4 linked regions of the Homo sapiens genome follow. The protein of the gene in region 2 interacts with the protein of the main gene of each other region in a pairwise test. Each region holds a gene or a part of one and is shown on either strand. Other genes may lie near its edges.

Region 1 (7,022 bases), on a different chromosome or scaffold from region 2:
TTTTGTATTTTTAGTAGAGACGGGTTTCACCGTGTGAGCCAGGATGGTCTCCATCTCCTGACCTCATGATCTGCCCGCTTGGGCTTCCCAAAGTGCTGGGATTACAGGCCTGAGCCACCACGCCTAGCCTAACTCCTTTTTCTTTCTTTCTTTCTTTTTTAAGAGACAAATTCTCATTATGTTGCCCAGGTTGGCTTCAAACTCCTAGATGGTGCTTCAGCCTCAGCCTTCTGAGTAGCTGGGATTACAGATGCATGCCAAATACTATCAACTCACCTTGAGGTTAAAGGTATCAATAATACATACCAATCAGATCACCCTGGTCATGGATCATCATGGCCAAATCTTTAAATATCTGATTGACATCCAAAATGTCAGCCTAAGGAAGACAAAAAACAATTAACTAACATTAAGCAACATGTTAGAAGATTTGTTTCCCTCACGTACCTAAAGTTTTAGCTATTAACACGTGTGTTTTTAAGGCTCTACAAAGCATGCTTTCTCCATAAACAGAAAATAATCTATTGCTGCCTACCCAATATTGTAAAACAGAAGGCACATAAACTCACTCTTCAAGCAACATTAATGGGACATGCTACATGAGAACCAGTAAGAGCGCCCAAGTCCAAACAGTACAGCAGAAGGCTGGAGTGCTGATATAGACAAATTCTTGGTGTGATAGCCCTATGTGGAGACTGCTAGGCCTTGTGACAAAAGCCTGTTGAGTGCCTCCCGATGACAACCACTGGGACTTTGGACTACAGAATTTAAATGTTTATACAAGATCATGCTATCTGAGGAATGCAAGGAGGAGCTACAAGTAAGGAGCCTCTTTTCCCCTGGGATTGACTCTGGAACTGTGTGAGGAGTTGCTGGATTCTGTCATCACTGGACAATGCCCTATGGTAACTCCCAACTGACTGACAAAAAGCTGATGGTCTGTGGATAGCAGTTCCAAAGTGAATGGACTACAACCTATTTACTGCTCTGATCAAAGAAGGTAAACACAAATCAGCTCAGTGGGCTGAACTGCAGCTTGTTTTCCTAACAGCAGTGGAAGAATTTAACATTGGCAAAATCCCCTATATTTGGGTCTTTCTCCCTCCCTCCCTCCTTCTCTCCCTCCCTTTCTTTTTTCTTCCTTTTCTTTCCTTCCTTCTTTCCTTCCTTCCTTCCTCCCTCCCTCTCTTTCCTTCCTTCTCTCTCTCTCCCTTCCCTTTCCTTTCCTTCCTCCCTCCCCTTCCTTCCTTTTTTCCCTCCCTCCCTTCCTTCTTTCTCCTCTCTCTTTCCTTCCTTTCTCTTTCTTTTTTTTTTGAGACAGAGTCTTGCTCTGTCACCCAGGCTGGAGTGCAGTGGCACAATCTCGTCTCACTGCAACCTCCACCTCCCGGATTCAAGCAATTCACCTGCCTCAGCCTCCTGAGTAGCTGGGATTACAGGCCCATGCCACCACGCCCGGATAATTTTTTATTTTTAGTAGAGACGGGGTTTCACCATGTTGGCCAGGCTGGTCTTGAACTCCTGACATCGTGATCCACTGCCTTGGCCTCCCAAAGTGCTGGGATTACAGGCATGAGTCACTGTGCCTGGCCTCCCTCCCTCCCTCCCTTCTCTCTCTATCCCTCCCTCCCTCCCTTCCTTCCTGATCCGCCTGCCTCGGCCTCCCAAAATGCTGGGATTACAGGCATGATCCACCGCGCCCAGCCTCCGTCCCTTCTTTCTTTTTATTTATTTTTATTTATTACTTGTTTTTTTTGAGACAGAGTCTTGCTCTGTCATCCAGGCTGGAGTGCAGTGGCACAATCTCAACTCCCTGCAACCTCCATCCCCTGGGTTTGAGTGATTCTCCTGCCTCATCCTCCCCAGTAGATGGGATTACAGTCGTGCACCACCACGCCCGGCTATTTTTTTTTTCTGAGGTAGAGTTTCACTCTTGTTGCTAGGCTGGAGTGCAATGGTGCAATCTCGGCTCACTGCAACTTCCGCCTCCTGGGTTCAAGCAATTCTCCTGCCTCAGCCTCCCAGGTACCTGGGATTACAGGATGTACCACCATGCCTGGCTAATTCTTTATATTTAGTAGAGATGGGGTTTCACCATGTTGGTCAGGCTGGTCTCGAACTCCTGACCTCAGGTGATCCACCCACTTTGGCCTCCCAAAGTGCTGGGATTACAGGCGTGAGCTTGTACTGTGCCCGGCCCTAATTTTTGTATTTTTAGTAGAGACAGAGTTTCACCACATTGGCCAGGCTGGTCTCGAATTCCTGACCTCAACTGATCCGCCTGCCTCGGCCTCCCAAAGTGCTGGGATTACAGGTGTGAACCACCACGTCTGGCCTATATTTGAGTTTTTCTGACTCATGATCAGGCAGAAGAAAGACAATGGAAACCTGTCTTATTAAAGGGGTGCTCATATGGGGCATGACCCTATGGAAATTTGAGGGCAATTCCCTTCCAGGTTTGAAGGGTTATTGGAATCATAACCTGGCAAGCATTTCAATCACTTGCTAAGAGTCTACTATAGTGGACTATCTGCTAAAGCAAGTCTTGTCAGCATTTCAATCACTTGCTAAGAGTCTACCATAGTTGGGGTAGTCTGCTAGTTGCTGTGAATACAGCTAACTGGGGTGGACGTGGGGAATAAGTGCACAATAAAATAAATAAGAAGGAAGAGTACTATATAGGAAATGGCTGAATTAATGGTATAGAAAGGTGTGGAGAAAAGGAAGACTCTGCAGAAGAGGTAAGACATGAGTTGTGCCTTAAAGCAAAGGAGAGGTCATATGAACAGAAAGGCAACTCAGTTAAAGAGCAAATAACCTAGCTTTGCCATAACATAGAATGTGTATGTCAGAGTTTGGAAATTACTAGATACGAAAATTGAACCTAGGCTAAGGAATTTGGACTTTCCTCTGTTGAATATGAAATGATCCATTATACCCTGGCATCCATTACATTTCTTTCCTTAGCTCCATATGTCTCACTCCACTTTGCTATAACGGTACATTCGTCCCTTGGTATCCGTGGGGGATTGGTTCCAGGACTCCCTCCCTCTAAGTCACTGATATAAAATGGCATAGTATTTGCATATAACTTGTGCCCATTCTCTCCTATATTCTAAATCATCTCTATATTACTTATATAATGTTACATTACTATTTTATACTACATTACTATTTTACATAGCACTTACATTGTATTAGTAATGTACTGAACTAATACAATGTGTTATATAAAATACTGTTACACTGTATTGGTTTTTACATTTGTATTATTTTTTATTGTTGTATTATTTTTTAGTTTTTTTTAAATATTTTCACTCCACGGTTGCTTGAGTCTGAGGATGTGAAACCTAAATATATCGAGGGCCAACTGTATTTTTTTTTTTTTTTTTGAGACAGAGTCTCGCTCTGTTGCCAGGCTGGAGTGCAATTGCTCACTGCAACCTCCGCCTCCCAGGTTCAAGCACTTCTCCTGCCTCAGCCTCCCCAGTAGCTGGAATTACAGGCATGCACCACCACACCCGGCTAATTTTTTGTGTTTTTAGTAGACACGGGGTTTTACCATGTTGGTCAGGCTGGTCTTGAACTCCAGACCTCAGGTGAGCCACTCGCCTCAGCCTCCCAAAGTGCTGGGATTACAGGCATGAGCCACCGCGCCCGGCTAGTAATTTTTCTTTGAAGGAAGGATTATTATTATTATTTGAGACAGAGTCTTGCTCTGTTGCCCAGGCTGGATTGCAGTGGCACGATCATGGCTCACTGCAGCCTTGATCTCCTGGGCTCAAGTGATCTTCTGCCTCAGGCTCCTGAGTAGCTGGGACCACAGGTACATGTTACAGCACCCGGTTAATTTTTTATTTTTTGTAGAGGTAAGGTCTTGCTACACTGCCCAGGCTGTCTTGAATTCCTGGGCTCAAGCAATCATCCTGCCTCAGCCTCCAACTTGCCGGGATTACAGGCATGAGCCATTGCACTTAGCCATATTTCTAATGTTAGACAATTAATTCAATTAGTAGTAGCAGTAGGTGAAAAAGAGTAAAGATATGACATTTTTGAAGGCAATAAAATAATCATAACTTAAGGATAAACTATCCCATCTAAAAACAGACAAGACCAGCCTGGCCAAAATGGCAAAACCTCGTCTCTACTAAAAATACAAAAATTAGCCAGGAGTGGTGGCGGGCACCTATAATCTTTGCTACTCAGGAGGCTGAGGCAGGAGAATCGCTTGAACCCAGGAAGTGGAGGTTGCAGTGAGCCAAGAACGCGCCACTGCACTCCTGCCTGGGTGACAGAGTAAGACTCTGACTCAAAAAATAAATAATAAATAGATAAAAACAGACATTGATGGCCTTTAGGGCAGTGGGTCTCAACCCTGGCTGCATATTATAATCACCTGGGGGAACTTTTTAAAAAAATACCCATGCCCAGGGCCTCACGCCCAGAAATTATGATTTATTAGTTTGAACCATATAAAATAATGGATATTTGCCCATTTTTAACATATAATAAACAGGAATTTCACATTATCCCATCAGGTAATTAGTGGTGGATGAGAGCTGGGGCATTAAAAAAAAATCTTCTCCAGGTGATCCTCATGTGCACTCACAGTTCAGAACCACTGCTACAGATGGAGGCCAAGGAAGAGCTCAAAATTTCCCTCTCTCCTTTTCTCCTCCCCTGATCCCAGCAATGGCAGCCTTCTACCTTCGGAGAAAACTAAACTGGAGAAAACTCAGGTTTAAGGATATTTTAGCTGGGCACAGTGGTTCATGCCAGTAATCCCAGCACTTTGGGAGGCTGAAGCAGGCAGATCACTTGAGGTCAGAAGTTCAAGACCAGCCTGGCCAAAATGGCAAAACCCTGTCTCTACTAAAAATACAAAAATTAGCCGAGTGTGGTGGTGCGTACTGGTAGTCTCGGCTATTCAGGAGGCTGAGGCAGGAGAATCACTTGAACCCAGGAGAGGGAGGCTGCAGTAAGCTGAGATAGTGTCATTGCACTCCTGCCTGGGCGACAGAGCAAGACTTAGTCTCGGAAAAAAAAAAAAAAGGATATTTTATTAGTCACTGTGCAAAATTAAAGTTGAAAGCTCAGTTAGGTAAGAAAGGCCTACAGACTTCTCCCTCAACCTCCACCTCAAAAACTGTTCCTATTTCTCTGACTCACTGAAGGGATAAGATGTACAACTTGGGATTAGACTTTAGGATATACAAAAATGGAGCAAGACTTTTGGCCTGCCTTTATTCTGGGCTCTTCAGACTAAGCAAAGGGGCTCTCCATGGAGTCCTGCCTAACCCGGAGGTTGGCATTGAGATTTGAGGTCAAAGTTCTAATGAGCAATAAAATATCTGTCTGCCTTGTTCTGTTCTCCATGTACATTTCTCCAGGAGAAATAAGATGTGGTGATCCGTATAAGATGTGGTGATTGAGGAAAGGATTTGAGTACTCCTGGGCACCAAGGCCAATGCCATTATAACAGTAGTTCATGCCAGGAGCGGTGACTCACGCCTGTAATCCCAGCACTTTGGGAGGCCGATGAGGGTGGATCACCTGAGGTCGTGAGTTCAAGACCAGCCTGACCAACATGGAGAAACCCCGTCTCTACTAAAAATACAAAATTAGCTGGGCGTGGTGGCACATGCCTGTAATCCCAGCTACTCGAGAGTCTGAGGCAGGAGAATCGCTCGAACCCAGGAGGCAGAGGTTGCAGTGAGCCAAGATCACACCACTGCACTCCAGCCTGGGCAACAAGAGCGAAATTCCATCCAAGATAAAAAAAAAAACAAAAAAAACCGGTAGTTCAAACCCACCATGATTACACTGAGACAGAAAAAATACAAATCACACAATGACACATTTTATGCCTTTTCATAATCACTAAGAGAATTAAAGTGAACTAAGGAGTTCAGATACCTGCAGACACACTGAGTCAAACAAAAAACATGACGTGGCTCTCACCTCCAGCTGCCGAATTGCCGTTTCTCTTTCTTTAATAAGTTCCAAATCCTGCTCAGTGATGGCCACCTCATCCTCCTGGCTCTGCATCTGGTTCCACTCCTCATGGCTGCAGGGAAACAGGCACACTAGGTGATTTCTCCTCTCAAAGGCATAACAAGACATATCTCCAACATCTCTACTGCCAGCAGAACCTATGCAAAGACATTACCAGGGCTCCAGTCCTCTGCTATCAATAAAGTCTTGGAGGGCCACATTCTTCATATCCAGAAGCAAAGAGCTGATGATATCAGGAAAACAAAGACTCAGCTTCCATGGGCAAAGCTGACATGTGGCAGAATTATGACGGATGGGACTCCTGGCTGTTTCCATTTAGGGGTATACTCTGTAATCTCACTGGGGCTTGCCAGACAAGGAAAGTAGCCAGAGATTTGAACTCATTGAATTATGTTGCACCATCATCTTCCAGGGCACTCTCAAAGTGCAAGCTGCATTAGTACCTTCAGTACTAAGTGGGTGGAGAAGAGCAAGCTAAGTGACCTATCAGTGCTTTGCCAGTTAGTTCAACAGAATCACATCTCCTAGTTTTCCAAAATTTCCTTGGGGTTATGCTTTGGGTTAAATACCTCTTAACAGGCCAGGCGCGGTGGCTCATGCCTGTAATCCTAGCACTTTGGGAGGCCGAGGCAGGAGGACTGCTTGAGGCCAGGAGTTCAAGACCAACCTGGCTAACATAGCAAAACCCTCATCTCTATTAAAAAACAATCCATAAAAAACCCTCTTAACAGAAAGCTAGTGAAATGTTATAACACTTTTTAAAAAATTCTTTTTAGAAATGGGGGTCTTGCTTTGTTGCCCAGGCTGGTCTCAAACTCCTGGCTTTAAGCTATCCTCCTGCCTCAACCTGCCAAAGTGCTGTGATTACAGGCTTGAGCCACCATGCCTGGCTTTTTTTTTTTTTTTTGAGACGGAGTTTCGCTCTTTCATCCAGGCCGGAGTGAAGTGGCGCTTACTTCACTCCGCCCCCCGGGTTCAAGAGATTCTCCTGCCTCAGCCTCGAGAGT
Region 2 (7,022 bases):
TGTCTCTCCTCACTGACCTTGACCTCTCCCTCGGTTCCTGTCTCTCCTCCTCTGACCCTGACCTCTCCCTCGGTTCCCGTCTCTCCTCACTGACCTTGACCTCTCACTCGGTTCCTGTCTCTCCTCACTGACCTTGACCTCTCCCTCGGTTCCTGTCTCTCCTCACTGACCTTGACCTCTCCCTCGGTTCCTGTCTCTCCCCACTGACCTTGACCTCTCCCTCGGTTCCTGTCTCTCCCCACTGACCTTGACCTCTCCCTCGGTTCCTGTCTCTCCTCCACTGACCTTGACCTCTCCCTCGGTTCCCGTCTCTCCTCACTGACCTTGACCTCTCCCTCGGTTCCTGTCTCTCCCCACTGACCTTGACCTCTCCCTCGGTTCCTGTCTCTCCTCACTGACCCTGACCTCTCCCTCGGTTCCGTCTCTCCTCACTGACCTTGACCTCTCACTCGGTTCCTGTCTCTCCTCCACTGACCTTGACCTCTCCCTCGGTTCCTGTCTCTCCTCACTGACCCTGACCTCTCCCTCGGTTCCGTCTCTCCCCACTGACCTTGACCTCTCCCTCGGTTCCTGTCTCTCCTCCACTGACCTTGACCTCTCACTCGGTTCCTGTCTCTCCTCACTGACCTTGACCTCTCCCTCGGTTCCTGTCTCTCCTCCACTGACCCTGACCTCTCCCTCGGTTCCTGTCTCTCCTCACTGACCTTGACCTCTCCCTCGGTTCCTGTCTCTCCCCACTGACCTTGACCTCTCACTCGGTTCCTGTCTCTCCTCACTGACCCTGACCTCTCACTCGGTTCCTGTCTCTCCTCCTCTGACCCTGACCTCTCCCTCGGTTCCCGTCTCTCCTCACTGACCTTGACCTCTCACTCGGTTCCTGTCTCTCCTCACTGACCTTGACCTCTCCCTCGGTTCCTGTCTCTCCTCACTGACCTTGACCTCTCCCTCGGTTCCTGTCTCTCCCCACTGACCTTGACCTCTCCCTCGGTTCCTGTCTCTCCCCACTGACCTTGACCTCTCCCTCGGTTCCTGTCTCTCCTCCACTGACCTTGACCTCTCCCTCGGTTCCCGTCTCTCCTCACTGACCTTGACCTCTCCCTCGGTTCCTGTCTCTCCCCACTGACCTTGACCTCTCCCTCGGTTCCTGTCTCTCCCCACTGACCTTGACCTCTCACTCGGTTCCGTCTCTCCCCACTGACCTTGACTCCTCACCTGGACCCTAAGCTGTGCTGAGGCTGCTTCTCCCTCTCGCCCTAGACTTCGACCCCCACCACTTCTGGCAGTGGAGCAGCTTCTCGGACTACGTGCAGTGCGTCCTGGCCTTCACGGGCGTGGCGGGCTACATCACCTACCTGTCCATTGACTCCGCCCTGTTTGTGGAGACCCTGGGCTTCCTGGCTGTGCTGACCGAAGCCATGCTGGGTGTGCCCCAGCTTTACCGCAACCACCGCCACCAGTCCACGGAGGGCATGAGGTAGGCCGGGGATGCCGCCACGGAAGCACCACTGCTCCAGAGGCACCACATGGCTGCAGATTTGGTAAAAATCAAACGCCTGTGTGTCTGGCTGTGTATTTCCCACGTTGACCTGTGAAGCTGCCGGTTAAAGAATAGCAGGTTTATAGGCCTTGGCCCCTCGACCTCGCGCTGGAGCAGATGAGCTTGTGTGGGCCGCATGAGGGGCAGCCGAGACCCAGCACGGGGTTGGGAGCTGCTCCTTCAGGGCCGTTGAGACGGAACCTTCCAGTGGGAGGGATGTCCGAGTGCCTGGCCAGACGGGGCAGGAGGAGTGCAGGGCAACCAGCCTGGCCCAGGGTCAGGGCGGGTCTGGTGGGGCAGGGAAGGTGGTCTGGGGGCTGCCTTGGACACTGTCCTCGGTCTTTCCCCACTGGCCCCAGCACGGCCTCCGGCCTCTGAGGTATGTGGTAGAAGGCTGGGCAGGCTGACGTTCGGAACCACAGACCATGCCTGGGCGCCCTGCACCAGTGCGTGCCTGGACGTCCCCGTGACCGCCAGAGGTAGGGCACAACGCGAGCAGCATGATGCCCACGGGCTCAGTCAAGGTCCTGGATGGAAACTGCATTGTAATAAAAACAGATCTGCTCGCTGTGGCGGGGGCAGAAAACTCTAGTCCCTCACACTTTCGACCCCCAGGCCCGCTCCTCACTGGGGACCCCCCGGTGCCGCTCCTCACTGGGGACCCTCCCCGGTGCCCGCTCCTCACTGGGGACCCCCCCCCGGGCCCGCTCCTCACTGGGGATCCGCCCCCCGGTGCCCGCTCCTCACGGAGAACACCCTGAGCCCCCACACGTTGCTTGAGTCTGGTCTCCAATACAGATGCTGAGGCTGTGATTTGGAGGGAATGTTATTCTTGGATTTGTTATTTGTGGGAAACAGCCTGGAAGAGAGGGGCTGACGCGTTTTTGTGTTGGAGAACGGGTGCCCAGGGGCCACAGCACTCTCTTGAGGGCTTTCAGAGACCTCTGAGTATTTGCAGGTTTGGCGTGTGGGCAGAGGTGTGAGGGCCGGGGGTTGTGTGTAGGTTCAGTTGCCCGTGAGAGGTAAAGGTAGGAGGGCTTGTCGTAGGTGTGGGGTGGTGGTAGGGGGTGAGATGTAGGTGCAGGCCAGGGTTATAGGTGTGGGTTGCAGTTACAGGTGTGTGGCGTAGGTGTGGGTGTGGGACATAGGCACAGATGTGAAGTGTAGGTGTGGGCTGGGGTGTGGGGTATGGAGTTCCGGTGTGGGCTGTAGGTAGAGGTGTGGGGCATGGGTCAGGTGTGGGGTGCTGGCATGGTGTGAGGTAGGTACAGGTTGGGGTGTGGTGTGGGGTGCAGGTGGGGATTGGGCTGCCCTGGTTGGTGTGATTACAGTGAATCAAGACCAGGGGGGTTGCTGGGGTTTCTCGGGCGAGGGTGCATGGAGGCCCGAGAGGGTGTCCATGGCTGGAACAGGCTCCCTCACTGTTGGGTTGGGCAGTGGCAGCCCTGAGGGCTTCGGTGTGGAGCCCAAAAGGCAGGGATGCTCCCAGAGAGAAAGTGGGTCTCAGGGCGGGCGTCGTATGTAGGCTCCCCGGCTGGACGTGGGCCTTGTCCGGCGGAGTGTGGCGTCCCCAGCCACCCCACAGCTGGAGATCCTGTGGGCAGTGCCCGCGTGCCGAGCTTGCGACCTGGAGATCTGTGGGAGGTGCCTGGGTGCCAGGCCTGTGCCCTCCAGAGCATCACCACAGCCTCGTGGTGAGGGTCTAGCGGATCCGGACCCCACATGCCGGCCTCCTGGCCCCTCACAAGGAGCTGGCCGTGTGTGACCTCACAGGGGCCCCAGGCTTGGCAGGAGCTGTTGCTCTCGATTCCAGGGTAGCAGGTTTTGCTGTTCAGCGCAGGCATGTTGTTCAAGGTCTCAGCCCAGGGGCTGCCCCGTCAGCTGGGGGGACGTGGGAATCCTCTTCAAACCCGAGTTTCCAGATGCTGGCCGAGGCGGCCCTGCAGGCAGGCCTGTCTTAGGCCCTGAGGTCTGCTCTTCTCACACACGGGGAAGGCTCCAGAAACGCCTGTGGAAGGGGGGTCTGTGTGTGGAAGAAACACATTGGACGTGCTTTTCCTGTTCTCACTCACTTCACCACAAGCAGCACACACACTTCCATGTGCAGGCGTCTCCCCAGCACCGAGCAGGCAGTCGGTCCTGCGGCGGGCACCGCCGGTTGTCCTGACCCAGAGACAGCGCCAGATGCCACCCACACTTAGACACCCATCGCAAATCTGGGCCTCTGGAACTTCTGGGCCATGTTAGGGTTCCATGACCCCTCCTTGGGCTCTGTCAGCTTGCTGGAGCGGCTCACAGAGCTCTGGGAAACACGGTTGCTGATATTTTACAAAGAGCATTTTAAAGGACAGACATAAACCGCCGAGTGAGGGGATACACAGAGGGAGCTGTGGAGGGGTCCCCAGGCAGGAGCTCGGTCTCGTGGAGTGGGGCTGCCGCCCTCACGGCACACAGATGAGCTCCTGTTCACTCTCCTGCCGGCTCCCGCAAATTCAGCTCTCCCCGGAGCCTCCCAAAGCCTGTCTACTTGGGAGACCTCATTGGATAGGCGTGATGGACAATGGTGTTGAAATGTGATTGGACCTAAGGGTGCGACGTGAACCCAGCAGGGTCTGTTGAGATTCTTCTGTCCTCTGTGCAGGCTCCTTCCTCCAGGATGTCGGCAGGACCCTCTCTGGAATGAGGGTTAGAGTCCTGCCTGGGCAGGTGAACAGAGGGCAAAAGGTCAGAGAGATTCTGTTTTCTGAGGCCTAAAGCACCCCAACGTCATGACAAGAGCTACAGAAGCACTGTGGGTACGGGAGCACCACGGGTACGGGAGCACCACGGGTACGGGAGCACCACGGGTACGGGAGCACTGCGGCTATGAGAGCACCACGGGTACGGGAGTGCCGCAGGTACAAGAGCGCCGCGGGTACGGGAGCACCGTGGGTATGGGAGGGTACGGGAGCACTGCGGGTACGAGAGCGCCGCGGGTACGGGAGCACCGTGGGTATGGGAGGGTACGGGAGCACTGCGGGTATGAGAGCACCGTGGGTACGGGAGCGCTGTGGGTATGGGAGCGCCATGGGTACGGGAGCACCGTGGGTATGGGAGGGTACGGGAGCACTGCGGCTATGAGAGCACCGCGGGTACAGAAGCACTGTGGGAGTTAGCACCCTGGAACCGTGGATGAAAACCCGTGTGTGTGGGATGCGGATACACTTACACACATGTAAAATAGTATTGGGGGTGCTGTGTGGGCGAGATGGGAGCCGGGGTCATGGTCCTTTGCCTGCATACTTCTCCTTGGCTGCGGAACTTGGAACGTGTCTCAGGGATCCCAGGAGGTGCAGGTGTTCTACCTCTGAGTTTGCCCTGCTCCCTGGGTGAGTGCCAAGCCCCTGTGAGATCACCTGGGCTAACTTCTGCTTTTATAAACCTCAGGTGTGGCTGGGGACGGGATGTCACAGGCACCCCATCTCCCCATCGGGCCACAGGAGGCTTGGCCTCTGTCCCTGCCGGGAGGGCCGGGCAGAAGACGGGCGACCCACACAGCTGGCACGTTGTGAGGGCTTGGATGGAGTCCTGAGGCTGAGGGAGATGGAGCAGTCTCTGCGGAGGAAGTAGGCAGCGAGGTCAGCCAGCTTCAAGTGCGGGACCGCTGAGACCCTGTGCATCCTCGTCAGGAACGGGGACCAGGAGCAGCAGCGTCGGGTCGGCTCGGAGTGATGGAGTGTGTGGTTGTAGTTACGGTAATGAGCGCCCCGGAGAGTCTGTGCACTGAGGCCCTGGCCTGGCCCCGGGGGGATGGGGAGGGGACAGGGCGGGCCCTGGGGGGATGCGGAGGGGGTGGGGCTGGCCCCGCCCGTGCTGCCGGGAGCTTCAGCCCTCCCCAGGCCCAGTTCATCCGGTCTGCGCTTTTAAGAGTGACCATCGGGCGGTTTTCCCACTGGAACACATAAGGCGTTTGCTGCTAGAACGCACAGCCAGCCTGACCCCATGCCTGCCAGCCAGGCAAAGTCTGGGGTCTGCTTGTGGGGACGTTGCCTCTGCATGGCCTGAGGGAAGGTTTTGGGAGGGTTCTCACTAAACGGGAAAGGGAACAGGACCACTCCAGGCCCAGCCTTTGTGCCGCACGTCCTTATTTCTGCTGCTCTGACGCCGCGTTTCACCTTGGCCCTGGGTTTTAGTATCACCCGAGTGTGAATTCTGGAGGCCCAGCAGCTGCCTTCCACAACCTGAGACGCCACCTGGCAGCCTGGGCAAGGCAGGGCCTGCAGGGCTAGGGCCGGCGACCTGGGGGCTGTTCCTGAGGCTCCCTCTGGGCAGGGCTGAGTCTGGAGCCGGCTCCACTTGCGCGTCTGAAGCTCCGTCTCTTTGGGCCTGTGGGCCCTGCCCACCTTCCTCCCTTGGCACTGCAGCCTGTGGGGCACAGGGTCCCCACCTCTGCCCCCCTTGCTGTGTGGTCTTCTGGCTTCTCCGCATGGGTCCAGGCCACCGCTCCGTGGATCTTCAGCCCTCCCCGGCCTGGGTTCCACTCGCTCTCCAGACGCAGCTTGGGCAAGGGGGTGTCTCTCCCCTTTGCCACTTCCTGGGTGCTCCTGTGGTACCTGCCTGTTCCTCCGGGGCCACGGCAGCCTTGGGGTGGGCTGGAGTGACCCCCCACTTCCTGCTGTCAGACCACCCCCCATCTGGAGGCAGGTCAGAGACGTCTCAGGTTCCTTTGTGCTCCGATCTGCCTGATGGGGGCGTCGTGGTATCCCCAGCCCTGTCAGGAGTTGTGATTCTTGAAGCCATTGTGGGTAGTGGTTTCTGAATGCAGGTTTGATAGATCATGTGTGCTTCCTGTATAATCTCCAGGGTCGTGTTTAAGATGACGTATTTAAAATGTGCACACACACGTACTTAACAGATACCCAAAAAACCAAGACTTTGGGCTGGGCGCGGTGGCTCACGCCTGTAATCCCAGCACTTTGGGAGGCCAGGGCAGGTGGATCACAAGGTTAGGAGTTCAAGACCAGCCTGGCCAAGATGGTGAAACCCTGTCTCTACTAAAAATGCAAAAATTAGCTAGGTGTGGCAGGCGTCTGTAATCCCAGCTACTCAGGAAGCTGAGGCAGGAGAATCACTTGAACCTGGGGGGCGGAGGTTGCAGTGAGCCAAGATCGCGCCACTGCACTCCAGCCTGGGCAACAGAGTGAGACTCCATGTAAAAAAACAAACAAGACTTTGGTGGCGAATGGTGACATGAGCCTGAAACGTGACAGCCTGAACTTCAGCTCCTTTTCTCTGGGGACCTGCTAGTGCCACTGCCCTAGGTGAGGGAGGCGTAGATGCTGCCTGGAATCTTCCCTGGGACCCACAGCCTCAGCTCCACATTAAACCGAAGGTCTCTAGGATGTTTGATAGGAAGTGACTCAAGAATTCCCGAGTTGATCTCGTAGCAGCCCTGCTTCTGGAAAGTCCTGTGTCTCGTGTACTTGCACACACGTGCACAGGCCGG
Region 3 (7,022 bases), on a different chromosome or scaffold from region 2:
CCCTATTTCCTCAGTAACTTAGACACATCCTAAACTCTTCCAGAATTAAAGAAACATTACTACATGCTATATAGACAAAGGCTATAGGATGCTTCTAGATTTCAGAAGCAAGGAAAAATGTGCTTTTAGACATGAGGCAAATTAAAATGCCGTATGCAGTGGTTTGAGGAGGTGATAGAATCATGTTTCTGAAGATGATTTTAAGGGCAAGTGGAAATGCTCATTGTATGTTAAAGGAGAAAAGCCATTTGCTTTTATTATATTATACATAATACATACATGTTTCAGAGGCATATTTAATCTTTGTAGAGGCCTTCTTCTAAGGATAGAATTTTGGTAGATCTTTGTTTTTTGAAAAATGTTCTATAATGAACACATTTGCTCTTGAAACAGGGAAAAGACTATATAATTTTATTTATTTTTAGGCTGGGGGGTTGAGGAGAGACCTCAGTTACAAAGATTTGGGTTAATTGTACTCCTTAGGCACACTATCATTAGCGGTTTATAAAGTAACTTTAAAAATACTGACTATTCCCACTAGAGGGCGCTCTTCCTAAATTTTAGATTGCCCATAACGCTGAAGATTTAAGCTTTGTAAAGGAAGTTTCAAGGTTTCATTTCAGCACAGCTGGGAGACTCGAGCCTATTTATTTGCTTGTTTGTTTGCTTGGCTTTAAATAAACTTTTTCGCTAAGTTAACTTTTTCAACCCTCCTTTATATCATCGGCATTTCTGTCTTTTCCAGAGTGTGTGGAACCATCAGTTTAGTAATTTGTATCCCTTCCAATTAATCTTTTTTTTTTTTTCAGTTTATGTTCCCTCAGCAGGATAGTGTTAGATGAAGAATGCTAAGGAATTATCACTAATTTTGTTAGGTATAATAATGGCATTGTGCTTAGGTTTTTTTTTTAAGTCCTTATCTATGAGATACATTTTGAAATATTTGTGGATGAAATGATTTACGCCTGGCTGGGAGCAGTGGCTCATGCCTGTAATCCTAGCACTTTGGGAGGCTGAGGCAAGCTGATCACTTGAGGCCAGGAGTTCGAGACCAGCCTGGCCAACATGGTGAAACCCCATCTCTACTAAAAATACAAAATTAGCTGGGCATGGTCCTGGGCGCCTGTAATCCCAGCTACTCAGGAGACTGAGGCAGGAGAATTGCTTGAACCTGGGAGGCAGAGATTGCAGTGAGCCGAGATCGTACCATTACACTCCAGCCTGTGACAAGAGTGAAACTCCATCATACACAGATAGATAGATATAGATAGATAGATAGATAGATAGATAGATAGATAGATAGATAGATAGAAAATTAGGCCAGGTGCTGTGGCTCATGCCTGTAATCCCAGCATTTTGGGTGGCCAGGGTGGGAGGATTGCTTGAGCTCAGGAGTTCAAGACCAGCCTGGGCACCATAGACCTCATCTCCACTAAAAAAATAAAATAAATGTCAGCCAGGCATGGTGGTACACACCTGTAGTCCCAGCTACTCAGGAGTCTGAGGCAGGAAGATCAGTTGAGCCCAGGAGATGGAGGCAGCAGTGGGCTATGACCATGCCACTGCACTACAGCCTGGGCGACAGAGCAAGCCCCTCTCTCAAAAAAATTAATTAATTGATTTTTTTTAATGAAAAATGTTAAGGAGTTGAACATGCTTTTGTTTTAATGTGATAATAACCCTAAATCCTGTGGACTGCTCGGACTGCCTGCTATTTAATTTAATAGACATTCCCAGATCAATGTAACAGATATTCATAGATTCTTAGCTCATGTCAGAAACATATGTTTCCCAGGCGCTGCAGGAGGTGCTGGAGTAACAAGGGCAGACGTGATGCCTGCCCTGCAAGAACTTGAGTCAGACATATTTGAGGTTTGGAGTGGAACCAACCATGCAGTAAACACTGACTACAAATGAATCTTGGCTGGTAGCAAATACCCCATATTTGCAAGGCAGGAATTTTATTGGCATCTCAGTTTTATGGGTTTGAGTTGAATCATCTCAGCCATGTGGTTAATAAATGGGAGATTTATTATTATTACTGCTACTCCTCCTAATAATAATAATAATTTCTACTAATAGTAATTTTTAAATCTTGATAGATTGTAATTTTTCCCAGGACGTGCAGCCCTTCATAATTATCATAACTATCTCATTGATCATTTAACTAAATTGTAACTGCTAGTAGCTGCTGCCTTCCTGCTTGCTGAAGTCACCTGTTCCTTTGCCCCCAACCATCTAAGGGCCTGTCTCCTGGCTCACTGAGCAGACAGGAGCTGGTCCTGAGCTCTGCTCTGCTGTGGGATGGTGGCAAAATCTGTCCAACACTTTTTCTGTCTCTCTTTTTATTCTGCAGCAGAAGTATTGGGAGGCCCTAAACTCGGAGCAGGTATGGACGATCATGCTCTTTCTCTTCCAGGAGGGACTTCCTATGGCTTGATTTCAGTTCCTGTTTTTGTTAGACCTTGTTAGATGGCTAGACCCATGACAAATTCCTTCAGTAAAAAAAGAATGTCAGGCCAGGCGCGGTGGCTCACACCTGTAATCCTAGCACTTTGGGAGGCCGAGGTGGGCGATCACCTGAGGTCAGGAGTTCAAGACCAGCCTGGCCAACATGGTGAAACCCTGTCTCTACTAAAGATACAAAATTAGCCGGGCATGGTGTCACATGCCTGTAATCCCAGCTACTCAGGGGCTGAGGCAAGTGAATCGCTTGAACCTGGGAGATGAAGGTTGCAGTGAGCCGAGATTGCACCATTGCACTCCAGCCTGGGCAACAAGAGTGAAACTCCATCTCAAAAAAAAAAAAGTCAAAATGAGAGGCAAGACTGAGGATGAATGGGATTTTCAGGGCTCTCTCAGGTCAGAGTTCTTTCTGCTTTGGGGGTATTCAGGTAAGCCCAAGTAATAGGGACTCCAAGAAGACGTGTAACCCAGTGAAGAAACATGGTTTGGAACAACAGTAGTAGTGGCCGGCATGGCTGCAGTAGCTGTTGCAATAAACAGTTCCAGACATTGTCATTCTGGGACCCTGGGCAGCTGGCTGCTGTCTCCATGCCACCCTTGCCTCCAAGTGACAGGCATGTTTTGTGACAACTACCTGTGCCTGTCATCTCCCAGGATTGTTTCTGATATGAAAATGGATCTTTTGCTCAGATTCTCTTCATGCCTGGTTTCCAGCAATGATTTTTTTTTTTTTTTTTTTGAGACGGAGTCTCGCTCTGTCGCCCAGGCCGGACTGCGGACTGCAGTGGTGCGATCTCGGCTCACTGCAAGCTCCGCCTCCTGGGTTCATGCCATTCTCCTGCCTCAGCCTCCCGAGTAGCTGGGACTACAGGCGCCCGCCACCGCGCCCGGCTAATTTTTTGTATTTTTAGTAGAGACGGGGTTTCACCTTGTTAGCCAGGATGGTCTCGATCTCCTGACCTCATGATCCACCCGCCTCGGCCTCCCAAAGTGCTGGGATTACAGGCGTGAGCCACCACGCCTGGCCCAATGATTTTATTATAAAATGAAGTTTTTAGGCCGGGCACGTTGGCTCACACCTGTAATCCCAACACTTTGGAAGGCTGAGGGGGGCGGATCACCTGAGGTCAGGAGTTGGAGACCAGTCTGGCCAACGTGGCGAGATCCCCATCTCTACTAAAAATACAAAAATTAGCCAGGTGTGGTGGTGTGTACCTGTGGTCCCAGCTACTCAGGATACTAAGGCAGGAGAATCACTTGAACCCAGGAGGCAGAGGTTGCAGTGAGCCCAGATCATGCCTCCAGCCTGGGTGATGGAGTGAGACTCTGTCTCAAAATAAATAAATAAATAAATAATGAAGTTTTAAAACACATTATTCTGGAGAGTCAGAAAAAATAGATTCTAAATGTTTTCTAAGATTTGTACCACTTTATTTTTACTTACTTATTTATGTATTTATTTATTTTTTGAGACAGAATTTCACTCTTGTCGCCCACGCTGGAGTACAGTGGCGTGATCTCGGCTCACTGCAACCTCCGCCTCCGGGGTTCAAACGATTCTCCTGCTTCAGCCTCCCAAGTGGCTGGGATTATAGGCGCCTGTCACCATGCCTGGCTAATTTTTTGTATTTTTAATAGAGATGGGGTTTCACCATGTTGGCCAGGCTGGTCTCGAACTCCTGACCTCAGGTGATCCACCCGCCTCAGCCTCCCAGAGTGTTGGGATTACAGGCGTGAGCCACCACACCCAGCCTATTTATTTATTTCTTGAGATGGAGTTTCGCTCTTGTTGCCTAGGCTGGAGTACAATCACACAGTCTCAGCTCACTGCAACCTCTGCCTCCCAGGTTCAAGCGATTCTCTTGTGTCAGCCTCCCAAGTAGCTGGGATTACGGGCGCCCACCACTATACTTGGCTAATTTTTGTATTTTTGGTAGAGACGGGGTTTCACCATGTTGGCCAGGCTGGTCTTGAACTCCTGACCTTAGGTGATCTGCCCGCCTCAGTCTCCCAAAGTGCTGAGATTACAGGCGTGAGTCCCCGTGCCCGGCCTGTACTAGTTTAAAGAGCTCACCTGATCAAAGTGACAGGTTTCTGTCTGCAGGCTGCTGAACTGGTCACGGTTGGCAAGAATCATTCTTCAGCAGCCATTTAAGAAGCTCGAGCAGTGGTTCTCAATCATCAGGGCATCTAAGAATCACCCTAGGAGCTTGTAAAAATGCCAAACCTTAGGTCTCTACCCCCTACCCAGGGGCTAGGGTGGGCCCCAGCATCAGTGTTTTTAGCCAGCAGCCTGGGTGCTTCTGGTGTGGCTGGTCAAGCACACGCTGTGAGAACAATGATCTAGGTCTCAGGCCTCAGCTTAGAAACCGTTTTCATCAAAGAGCACACTGACCATCCTCAGAGAACAGAACAGGGCCCTACTTTTTTCACTGGGCAGGTGGGTCACGTAGGCTGAGGGGCCTGGTGAGCTCTTTTATTTGGGGTCTGATAAGGTCAGAAAGGAATTTGGTTCAAGGGGTCCAGCCAGGTCTGCGACCGCAAGTTAATGCGATGTTCTCACTGGAAGTGGCTGGCACAGCCCCAAACAGGTGCAGGGGACGAGCTGCCCAAACCCAGTCACTGCAGGGTCACTGGGAATCAGGTGGTCTTTTTAACATGATGGCTTTTAAAATCGCCAAGTATTAGTACTCGATTCAGTTATTATCAGTAAATCACTAACAAACTGGGCTCTTTATTTCTGTCCAAAACAAGGCCACAATTTGTGTTTTATCACTGGGATGGCATGGCCATTGTGTCAATGGCTCAGGGAGACTTCAAGATCTTCGCTGGAACCTCTAAGGATTGGAATGTTCGATTCAGCTTCAGTGTGAGCAGCTGTCAGGGCATCTTTCTTGGAGAGCATGTCCATGCCTGGGTCTATTATCTTGTCCAAATAGATCGTCTGCCCAGGCAGACACAGCCTTTGTCATCTTTGCTTCTTGTTTCCTGGGTTTCCTAGTACTGTCAAATGTGACCTTGTGCCTCAGAATCATCATAGACGCTTGGAAATGGGAGAGATCTTCTTATCTCGTTGCTGATCCAATACCACAGCATACACATGGGGAAACTGAGGCCCCAAAAACGAAGGCAAATTAGTGACAGGAGGAGAACTGGAGCCCAATCCCTACTTGCCTCCATGGCTGGAACCTCAAAGGTAACACCAAGGATCCCCTTGGGCTCTAATCCATCATCTTAGAACAGCAGGAGGGCTTCACAGACAGCTTTGTCAATGCTTCTGTGCCCACTTGTATTAACCCGTCACTCACCCCTGCAAATTTCAACTTCCCAAACCCACCTGAGTCGGTGATGAACTATTCACTGGCAGTGCCCCCCCGCTCTGAATTGGGTTTTAAGTGATGACAAGTCGGCTGAGCCTCAGGTTTAGAGGAAACACCGTGTAGGAGCAGGAGCGAACGTTTGCTCTGTTCCCGTGGAGCCCATCATCTACCTGAGACAACAAGGCAGATGTCCGCATAAACGCCAGGGCTGTCCGTGCTCAGGGGCAAATCAGTGGAATAGGTAATACAAAGAGAAAGGCAGGTGAGAGCTCAATGGGCTAACACGGTCAAGGTAGGCTTCCTGGGGGAAGAGGTATTTACCTGGCCCATAAAGAATAGGTTGAAGCTGGGCATGGTGGCTCAAGCCTGTAAGCTGAGCACTTTGGGAGGCTGAGGCGGGAGGACTGCTTAGGTCCAGGAGTTCGAGATCAGCCTGGGCAACATTGCAAGACTTTATCTCTACTAAAAATTAAAAACTTAGCCAGGCATTGTGGTACACACCTGTAGTCCCAGCTACTCGGGAGGCTGAAGCAGGAGGATTGCTTGAGTCTAGGAGTTTGAGGCAGCAGTGAGCTATGATTGCACCACTGTACTCTAGCCTGGGTGACACCGCAAGACCCTGTCTTAAAAAAATAAAAAAGGATTAAGTTTGCCTGGTTTTTTCCAGGAATGAGTTAGGCATGGAGTCAGGATAAGGAGAACATGACTCAGTGTCACTAGATAAGGACTTGGTAGAGGCAGAGAAGAGTGGAGAATGAGGGCGGGAAGGAAAGTGAAGCTGTTATGTTTAGGGTGGTTGTTCATTAGTTGCTTGATGTAAAGTTATGCTTGCCTCCTTAGGTCCCAGAAACACAGGCCTGGGTAACTTGTCCTTACCCTTTTGTCCTTGTCTGTGCCTGGATCATGAGAACCAAGATTGGAGCTTTTGTTTGGGTCAGGGGTTATGACAGATGAGAAGCATCTATCCGTTCCACCCAGCTACCCTTTGCATCTTTTCTCCATAGTGGGACCCTGAAGATGTGAACCTCGAAGGCAGCAAAGAAAATGTGGAGCTACTGGGATCCCAGGTGCACCAGGACTCTGTGAGGACAGCACACCTGAGTGATGATGATTAACACCTTCTGGAGCCAGCTCATCAGCTCAGAGCCCAGGGTCAGGAGTTCGTTCAGTAACGCAGCGGGAATCAATCTGCACTGACACCGCGGCAGGAACTGAAGCTGCCCTGGCAAGTGAGGA
Region 4 (7,793 bases), on a different chromosome or scaffold from region 2:
ACTGCAGTGGCACTATCTCGGCTCACTGCAAGCTCCGCCTCCCGGGTTCCTGCCATTCTCCTGCCTCAGCCTCCCGAGTAGCTGGGACTACAGGCGCCCGCCACCACGCCCGGCTAATTTTTTGTATTTTTAGTAGAGACGGGGTTTCACCATGTTAGCCAGGATGGTCTCGATCTCCTGACCTCGTGATCCGCCCGCCTCGGCCTCCCAAGGTGCTGGGATTACAGGCGTGAGCCACCGCGCCCGGCCTAAAATTCTTAAACAGAATATAAAACAATGTAAACAAAAATGTTACAAAACAGAAATAAAAACAGCATTTGTGTTGGATTACCAAGTGTTCATTTTACCAAGAGGATAATCCCTTTACCTAATTGAAATAAGGAAGAAACAAAGGTGGGTGTGAACCTTTTATGGAGAGATCCTGGAAGCATGACCTTGGCCAAAACAACTGATGGCTCAGCCAATCTCTGGAGATGAGACCTGCAGAAGTTTCATTATTTGTTGCTGTCAAGGTGAAGCTCAACTCCATCCTGTGGATGAAGAGTCAAACTCTGTAGAGTATTTGAAGAGATTTATTCTGAGCCAAATATGAGTGACCATGGCCCATGACACAGCCCCAGGAGATCTTGAGAACATGTGTCCAGCGTTATCAGAGTACAGCTTGTTTTTATACATTTTAGGTTATAGGTGAATTCGAAGATTTTCTGATTGGTAGCTGGTTGAGTTTATCTAAAGACCTGAAATCCGTAGGAGGAAATGTCTGGGTTAAGATAAGGGGTTGTAAAGACAAGGTTCTTATTATGCAGGTGAAGCCTTCAGGTAGCAGGCTTCAGAGAGAATAGATTATAAATGTTCGTTATCCAACTTACAAAGGTGCCAGACGACCCCGGGAGCGCAGGGAGCGCTCCTGCAGGAGCATTTCAAAATAGGCCAAATGAATATATTTTGGGGTAAAATACTTCGATTTCTCTCAGGGCCTGCTGTCATGATTCTTATTGCTACAAAGAGTCTGTACTGTCAGTCTTAAGGTCTCTGTTTTTTGGGTTTTTGTTTTTTTTTTTTATTGAGATGGAGTCTCTATCATCCAGGCTGGAGTGCAATGGTGCCATCTCGGCTCACTGCAACCTCTGCCTCCCGGGTTCAAGCAATTCTAATGCCTCAGCCTGCTGAGTAGCTGCGATTACAGACATAAGCCACTACGCCCAGCTAATTTTTGTAGTTTTAGTAGAGACAGGGTTTCACCATGTTGGCCAGGTTGTGCCTTAAGGTCTCTGTTTTAATATTAATGCTGGTCAGCTGTGCCTGAATTCCAAAGGGAGGAAGTTATAAGGAGGCATGTCGGCTGGGCGCTTTGGATCACACCTGTAATCCCAGTGCTATGGGAGGCCAAGGTGGGCAGATCAGTTGATGTCAGGAGTTTGAGGCCAGCCTGGCCAGCATGGTGAAACCCCATCTCTATTAAATATACAAAAAATTAGCCGGGCGTGGTGGCTCATGCCTGTAGTCCCAGCTACTTGGGAGGCCGAGACATGAGAATTGCTTGAACCCAGGAGGCAGAGGTTGCAGTGGGTTGAGATTGTGCCACTGCACTCCAGCCTGGGTGACAGAGTGCGACGCCCTCTCAAAAAAAAAAAAAGGAGCCATGTCCAACCACCCATTCCATCATGGCCTGAACTAGTGTTTTGTGTTTACTTGAGAATGCCCTTGGTCAAGAGGAAGGGTCCATTTGCTTGCTTGGGAGGGGCCTAGAATTTTATTGTTGGTTTACATTCCTCAGAGCTGATTGCCTTCCAAAAGGTTGCACTCTGAAATTATTATCAACCCTGATCAATAATCATAATACTAAGAACTACACGTATGCTATTGGAATGGATTTATTTATCAGCCCTGTAGGAAAATATATATCTCACATCACCTCATTCCCATTTACCCACTTTTCCCTTTTCCAATCTTAAGGCTCGTGTTGTCTAAATATTCGATAGTTTCAGCACAGTTTACATTTTATAAAAGCCCCCACTGGCTGCTGTGCAGAGAGCAGGTGTGTGCCCCTGATCTACAGAAGGTCAAGTTGATCCAACTATCTGGCTGGGGCAGGGGAGTTGGAGAGGGGAGTGGGGAGATGGGGAGGGGAGGGGAAGTTGGGGGAGGGGAAGCACATTCAACTGGGATGGAGACAAAGGAGAGAGGCAGGAGGAGGGAGAATGAAGAGCTGGGGAAGGAGCTTTGGAAAAATACAGGAAAGCAAAGGATGCGGCGACAGAAGGAGAGGATGAGGAGTCAGTCAGCACCACATGGAGAGCAAGAAGGAAGAAGGGGACAGGAAATGCAGAAACAGAGTGGAAGGACAAAGAAACTACAACATACAGAGGCCTCGAATAAAAATCAATTCATCTCAAAGTGTTCAGCATTTTCATGAGGCTGTGAGACCGAAATAGGAAGAGGCCCTTTATTTTCTTAGGAAGAGAACACAGACCGGAGGTGGGAGAGGAATGGTAGGGAATTTTCCAAACAAAGAGAGGGCCTGTGGCCTCTCAAACTGCCCCCACCCCATGCTCACTGAAGCGTTCACACTGCAGCCCTGAACTCTTCACAAACAGGGTGAACTCCATCCAGAGAGGGGGGATCCGGAACCCATGCTTGGTTTCCATCCCAGCTGGAGGGCTGGAGAATGAGACTGCAGAGCTAGGGTTCAGGCCACAGCCTGGGGGACAGGGTAGGCAGGAGGTCAGCAAGGCTTAGAGAAGATGGATATGTTGGGTTGGGTGAGAGGCCTGGTGCTGGGAGTGGGTTGTCTACAGAGAAGCACCCCCAGGGCCTTGTCCAGGATGATCCTTGGCCAGGGGGGTCCTGAGGGGACTGGCACTGCACACCTCAGGGATGCAGTATCAGGAAATCTGGGGCTCCCCAGCTTCCTGCTCTGGTCTTCTTCTCTGGACACGCTCATGTTGCCATAAGGAGAGACAGAAACATCAGCAAAATCAGATCAATGCTTCCAACTGTATCCCTAACCCCTCCATTCCAGCCAGATTTGGAGATAGTACAGATACCCCCCTCCCCAAGTAAAGTGTCTCTTGACACCTTGGGGTTCAGGCCACAGCCTGGGTACAGGGTGGGTAGGAGGTGAGAAATGACTCCCCTTCTTCTCGATGGAAAGAAAAGGCCTTGGCCAGGGGACAGTGCTCAGGGACTCTGGCCACTCCAGTACCTGCCCCTACAGAGGCCAGAGAAGGGCAGGGCCAGCCCCTGGTACAGAGCACTGAAAGGAGGTTCCCCCTCCAACTTCTGACTGGTGCTGGTTGAAAGACTGAACAAACTAACCCACTGAGCTTTTTTCCTCACTGCAAAGTGGGTCGAATGACAGGGCCTGCTTATGATGCATGGAAGGGATTCAGTACTTCCTGGGGTTTACAAGAGCTCAGAGAATGGCAGCAAGGCGAGTTAGAAACATCCTGGGCACCTGTTTTTAACAAATTCATTCACTCCTTCATTGCACACATGGTTATTGAGTGTCTGCTATGTATGTAACAAGCACTGTGGATACATCATTACACAAGACAGATTCTCCATCTCCCCAGCAGACATTTCCGTGTGTGTGTGTGTGTGTGTGTGTGTGTGTGTGTGTCTGTGTGTGTGTGGCGGGGAGAGGGCACAATACAGAGTAAACAATAAATAAAGTTATATAATATAGCAGAGGGAATTTAGTACTAGGAAGGACATAAAGCCAACGAGGGAGATAAGGTGGCGGGGGTGGAATTTTAAATCAGCTGGAGCATATGTATGAAAGTGGGCCGGGCGCGGTGGCTCACGCCTGTAATCCCAGCACTTTGGGAGGCTGAGGCGGGCGGATCACCTGAGGTCAGGAATTGAGACCAGCCTGGCCAACACGGTGAAACCCCGTCTCTACTAAAAATACAAAAATTAGCTGGGCGTGATGGCGTGCGCCTGTAGTCCCAGCTTCTTGAGAGGCTGAGGCAGAAGAACTGCTTGAACTCGGGAGGCGGGGGTTGCAGTGAGCCGAGATAGTGCCACTGCACTCCAGCCTGGCGACAGAGTGAGACTCCGTCTGAAAGAAAAGAGGAAAGGAGAGGAAAGGAGAAGAGAAAAGAAAAGAGAAAAGAAAAAAAGAAAAGAGGCCAAGTGTTTCCCGTAGAGATACTGTGTATTGGGGGGGCGCACAGGGGTGCCACGAATTGAGCTGCCCACTCCTTCCAGATGCAGGGTTCTCACCCGGGTAGGTGAGAACGGGGTGAGGGGGAGGAATCACGCGTGGGTGGCTGGATTAGTTCCTGATGTCCTCTGATTCCCTACAGCTTCTTCAGCCCCGTTCTAACCCCCTTCCTCAGGCTTACAAGAAAGTGTGTGGAAGAGAGACACGGAGAGACTGAGCATTAGACTTTTTTGGAAGAAACATCAGTAAATGAAAATGGAATTACAATAAAAATAACAAAAGCAATAAACTCCTGACCTCAGTCACAATCATTTTAGTTAACACGCCAGTCCTAATAACAAACACGAGTCCCTGAGACCGCAACCCCTCGGGCACCGCAGGGCGTGCAGGTCTGGGCGGGCGGCGCAGCCTCCCCTGGCGGCTGACCCTGGGAGCGCGGGGAGCGCCAAGCCTCTTCTAGCGCTCACCTCGCGCTCACTCCTGCGCTCGCCGGGCTGCTTGTGCGGGGAAGGGGCGGGGCCCGCCTGGGCTCCTCCCCGGTCGGAGCCCGGAGCAAGGGGGCAGAGCGCGCCGGGCGCTGGTTAAAGAGGCGTGCGGAGGCGGGCGCGGCGCATACTGCTAGTGGCGCGCGGAGGAGCGACGCGTGGAGAAGCGGCCCACGTGTCTGCCCAGAGTCAAGTCCTGTGTTCTTCCCGCTCCTTACGCATCCGCGGTCCAGGGCGCCCTTTCAGCCCCGCTGGTGTTCGCCCACCCCGGGCCGCGTGAGTGGGGCCCCACGCAGCTCCCCGCACTCCGTGGGCCAACTTGGCCAAGCAACTCTGTCCGGGGAGCGGTGCTTGCGGGGGGTGAGTACCGGGCACTGCGCATGCGGAGCTCCAAATTCAAACAGCTGTTTTCAGAGGCTGGAGGGCGGGCGGACTGGTAGCAGCTGGGGCTAGGAGAGGCTTTCTCTAGGAGGCGGCCGCTCGGGAGCCATGGTGGACCGGGGCCCTCTGCTCACCTCGGCCATCATCTTCTACCTGGCCATCGGGGCGGCGATCTTCGAAGTGCTGGAGGAGCCACACTGGAAGGAGGCCAAGAAAAACTACTACACACAGAAGCTGCATCTGCTCAAGGAGTTCCCGTGCCTGGGTCAGGAGGGCCTGGACAAGATCCTAGAGGTCAGTCGCCGCCTGTACCCCCATATACATCTGAAGCTGGCTTGAGCTTTAGGGGGCGCTGAAAGGAAGACCCCTTCACAGCTTTGGGTGACCCTCAGTCCCTGTGGAAGGTCCAGGGGGTGATGAGAGAGCGTGTCTCATCATGGGTCAGGCTTCGAGGATCTGTCGCTCACCCGAGGGACACAGGGGTCCCCCAGGCGCGGAGACTCTTTGGAACTTAGTTTGGCCGGAGACAAATTGGAGTTGATTCCCGGGTGAACTAGGCTCCACGGTGTTTCAGTGTGGGTGTGACGGTACCTCCCTCCTTGGGAAGAGGCTGTGGGACGGATAAAGGCGTTTATCTTTCCCTGGAGACGCTCCCGGAGTCTGGGAGCCAAGCCTGGTGCCATCCCCTCGTGTCTCCACCTCCCCGCTCCAGGGCCAGTGCCACGCCTGCCAGGCTTTTCTTAAGGAACGTGAACCCGGCAGAGTGGCGGGAGGGTCCCTCAGCCCGAGCCTGGGCAAAATCTTCCGCCCCCAGCAGAGTTCCGGAGAGGAGCTGGAGGCTCTGTGGGGCCCGAACCCACGGGATGAGGGCTGGTGCCTGGAATGCTGGGGACGCGCTCAGGCTTCCGGGAAGGCTTATCTCGCGGAGACATCCTTCAAGGGCTTGGAGTAAAACTTTGTGAAAGTAGCAGGTTGCACAAACGAATAATACCCGCGTAGTCCCTTTATGATGGGGGAGGAGAGTGTGTGCGGAATTGGGGTGGGTGGGGGACTTCCCTCCGTGCTGACATTGGGAACCGCTTATTTTCTGGTGCACAGCCCGATGGGTGGCATTGACCTCACTTTGGATAAACGGGCTGCCTATCCTGGCTGAGACCTTGGGGCCCATTTGGGGACCGAGGCCCTCTACCCCAGTTTCTCGAGGGCTCAGCTTCAACCATCAACTCTTCTTGGCCTGCTCCCCCAGTGGAATGACCAGGACCTGGGTGAAAGTTCTAGATTGCAGCAGGTAGGGAGTAGGGGTAGATTGTCCAGGGTGTTACCTTGCTCTCAGGGTGAAAGATGCCAGAAAGGAGGTCTGATGAGAAGCAACGTTTAGTCTACAGCAGCACCTCAATACTTTATGCCTATCTAGTCGTCGCTCATTTTCCAGCCTCCGTTTCCCCATGTGAGAAACGGGAATGAGCCCATCCTCATTCCTTATTTCTGCCACGGACTGTTAGGTTGGAAGCATTTGGAAAACATCAAAATCTTGTCCCCAGATTGATGGACATCACACAGATAAGCATATACGTATTTGCTGGCAGCCGTGTGTGGGGAGACTTGTCCTCCAAGGGGTCCTGTAGAAGGGGAGGTTTAGTCTAGCAGGCTTAGTGTTGGATTTTAGTGGAGAGTCTCTTGCCCTGTAGCAGTTTCCCGGGTAGAGGCAGATGGGAGGTGATGGTGGGGAGGATAAGCTTCAGTAGATGGTTGGTTGGTTTACCTCCTAACAGCAAGAGTCCTGGCATGAAGAGTCTACATGGCTTCCTTCTGATGGGCGTCTACCCTGGGGGGTGTGTTGTGGGGAGGGGGTTGCTTTATGATTTCCCTTGAGGAAACAATTCCTCTAGAGAACAAGTTTTTGTTTAGTTTGTTCCAGGGCTTTGTTTAGAGGGGGAAGAGGGCAGGCAAGGATGATAAAGCCTTGAGCTGCCCTCGAAGTGTTTCCCTCTAAGCTGTTGCTCCAACACTGCAGGGGAAGGAAGGAAAGAATTCAAGGCTAAATGTGGGAAAATAAACTTCAAAACACAAGGCAAAGGGAAAGGCTGGCGGGGCATACGGCGGGGGGGGCGGGGTCCAGGGGTTAGGCAGCCGGGTGCAGCTGGTGGTCATAGCTTTGGAGGCTAGACGGCTTCTTAAGGTATTTGAACAAACAAAATGCCTCTTATTTAGCAGTCCTGTTAAATCTGTCAACATTTACCCCCCTACCAAAAAAAAGTAATGGGCAGGTAATTTTTAGAAAAAGGACTTGGGCATCAAGCCAGTCTGCTTTGGAGGCTATTATAGATAAGTTCTTGAACAAGGACAGCCCTGTCCTCATCCCCGGCCAAAGAAACTCCCAAACCAACCCCAACTGGGCGAGTCCCTTCCCGTCATAGGAAAAACCCCAAGAAATGAAAATGGACAAGTAGAAGCATTTGCTGACATCAGTTTTAATCTGCAGAAATCTGCCTTGCTCTGCTTTCTTGTGACTTGGGGTACTGCCTCAGGCCTCAGGATATTGGTTTAAGGAAAAATGAAAACTCAAAAATCTTCTTTCCCATCTGGCTGCTTGGGCATTTTCCACCTGACGCTCTGTGTTTTAGCTGGTTCTGAATCACCTTGGAATCATGAAGGAGCCCCTAGCTAGGAATTCCTGGGGTACAACCAGGGGTGGGACAAAGATTGTTGGAAGAGATGGGGTGCAGTCTGAGTTGGGGTTTCTCTTACCCTGAAAGTTG

The links.
Region 1: the proteins of SLC66A2 (region 2) and STX12 interact in binary tests that used the Homo sapiens proteins (3 or more experiments, as listed by UniProt).
Region 3: the proteins of SLC66A2 (region 2) and TMEM44 interact in binary tests that used the Homo sapiens proteins (3 or more experiments, as listed by UniProt).
Region 4: the proteins of SLC66A2 (region 2) and KCNK5 interact in binary tests that used the Homo sapiens proteins (3 or more experiments, as listed by UniProt).

Annotation. Positions count from the first base shown.
Region 1 is NC_000001.11:27,811,208-27,818,229, reverse strand, and holds part of STX12 (syntaxin-12), read right to left. Parts: intron 6,068-7,022; coding exon 5,962-6,067; intron 380-5,961; coding exon 307-379; intron 1-306. UniProt on the Homo sapiens protein: SNARE promoting fusion of transport vesicles with target membranes. Together with SNARE STX6, promotes movement of vesicles from endosomes to the cell membrane, and may therefore function in the endocytic recycling pathway.
Region 2 is NC_000018.10:79,913,636-79,920,657, reverse strand, and holds part of SLC66A2 (solute carrier family 66 member 2), read left to right. Parts: intron 1-1,257; coding exon 1,258-1,474; intron 1,475-4,178; coding exon of another isoform or gene 4,179-4,227; exon of another isoform or gene 4,228-4,470; intron 4,471-4,963; exon of another isoform or gene 4,964-5,268; intron 5,269-7,022.
Region 3 is NC_000003.12:194,588,408-194,595,429, reverse strand, and holds part of TMEM44 (transmembrane protein 44), read left to right. Parts: intron 1-2,359; coding exon of another isoform or gene 2,360-2,389; intron 2,390-4,597; exon of another isoform or gene 4,598-5,575; intron 5,576-5,803; exon of another isoform or gene 5,804-5,956; intron 5,957-6,287; exon of another isoform or gene 6,288-6,409; intron 6,410-6,790; coding exon 6,791-6,901; 3' UTR 6,902-7,022.
Region 4 is NC_000006.12:39,226,461-39,234,253, reverse strand, and holds the start of KCNK5 (potassium channel subfamily K member 5), read left to right. Parts: upstream 1-4,778; 5' UTR 4,779-5,142; coding exon 5,143-5,328; intron 5,329-7,793. UniProt on the Homo sapiens protein: K(+) channel that conducts voltage-dependent outward rectifying currents upon membrane depolarization. Voltage sensing is coupled to K(+) electrochemical gradient in an 'ion flux gating' mode where outward but not inward ion flow opens the gate.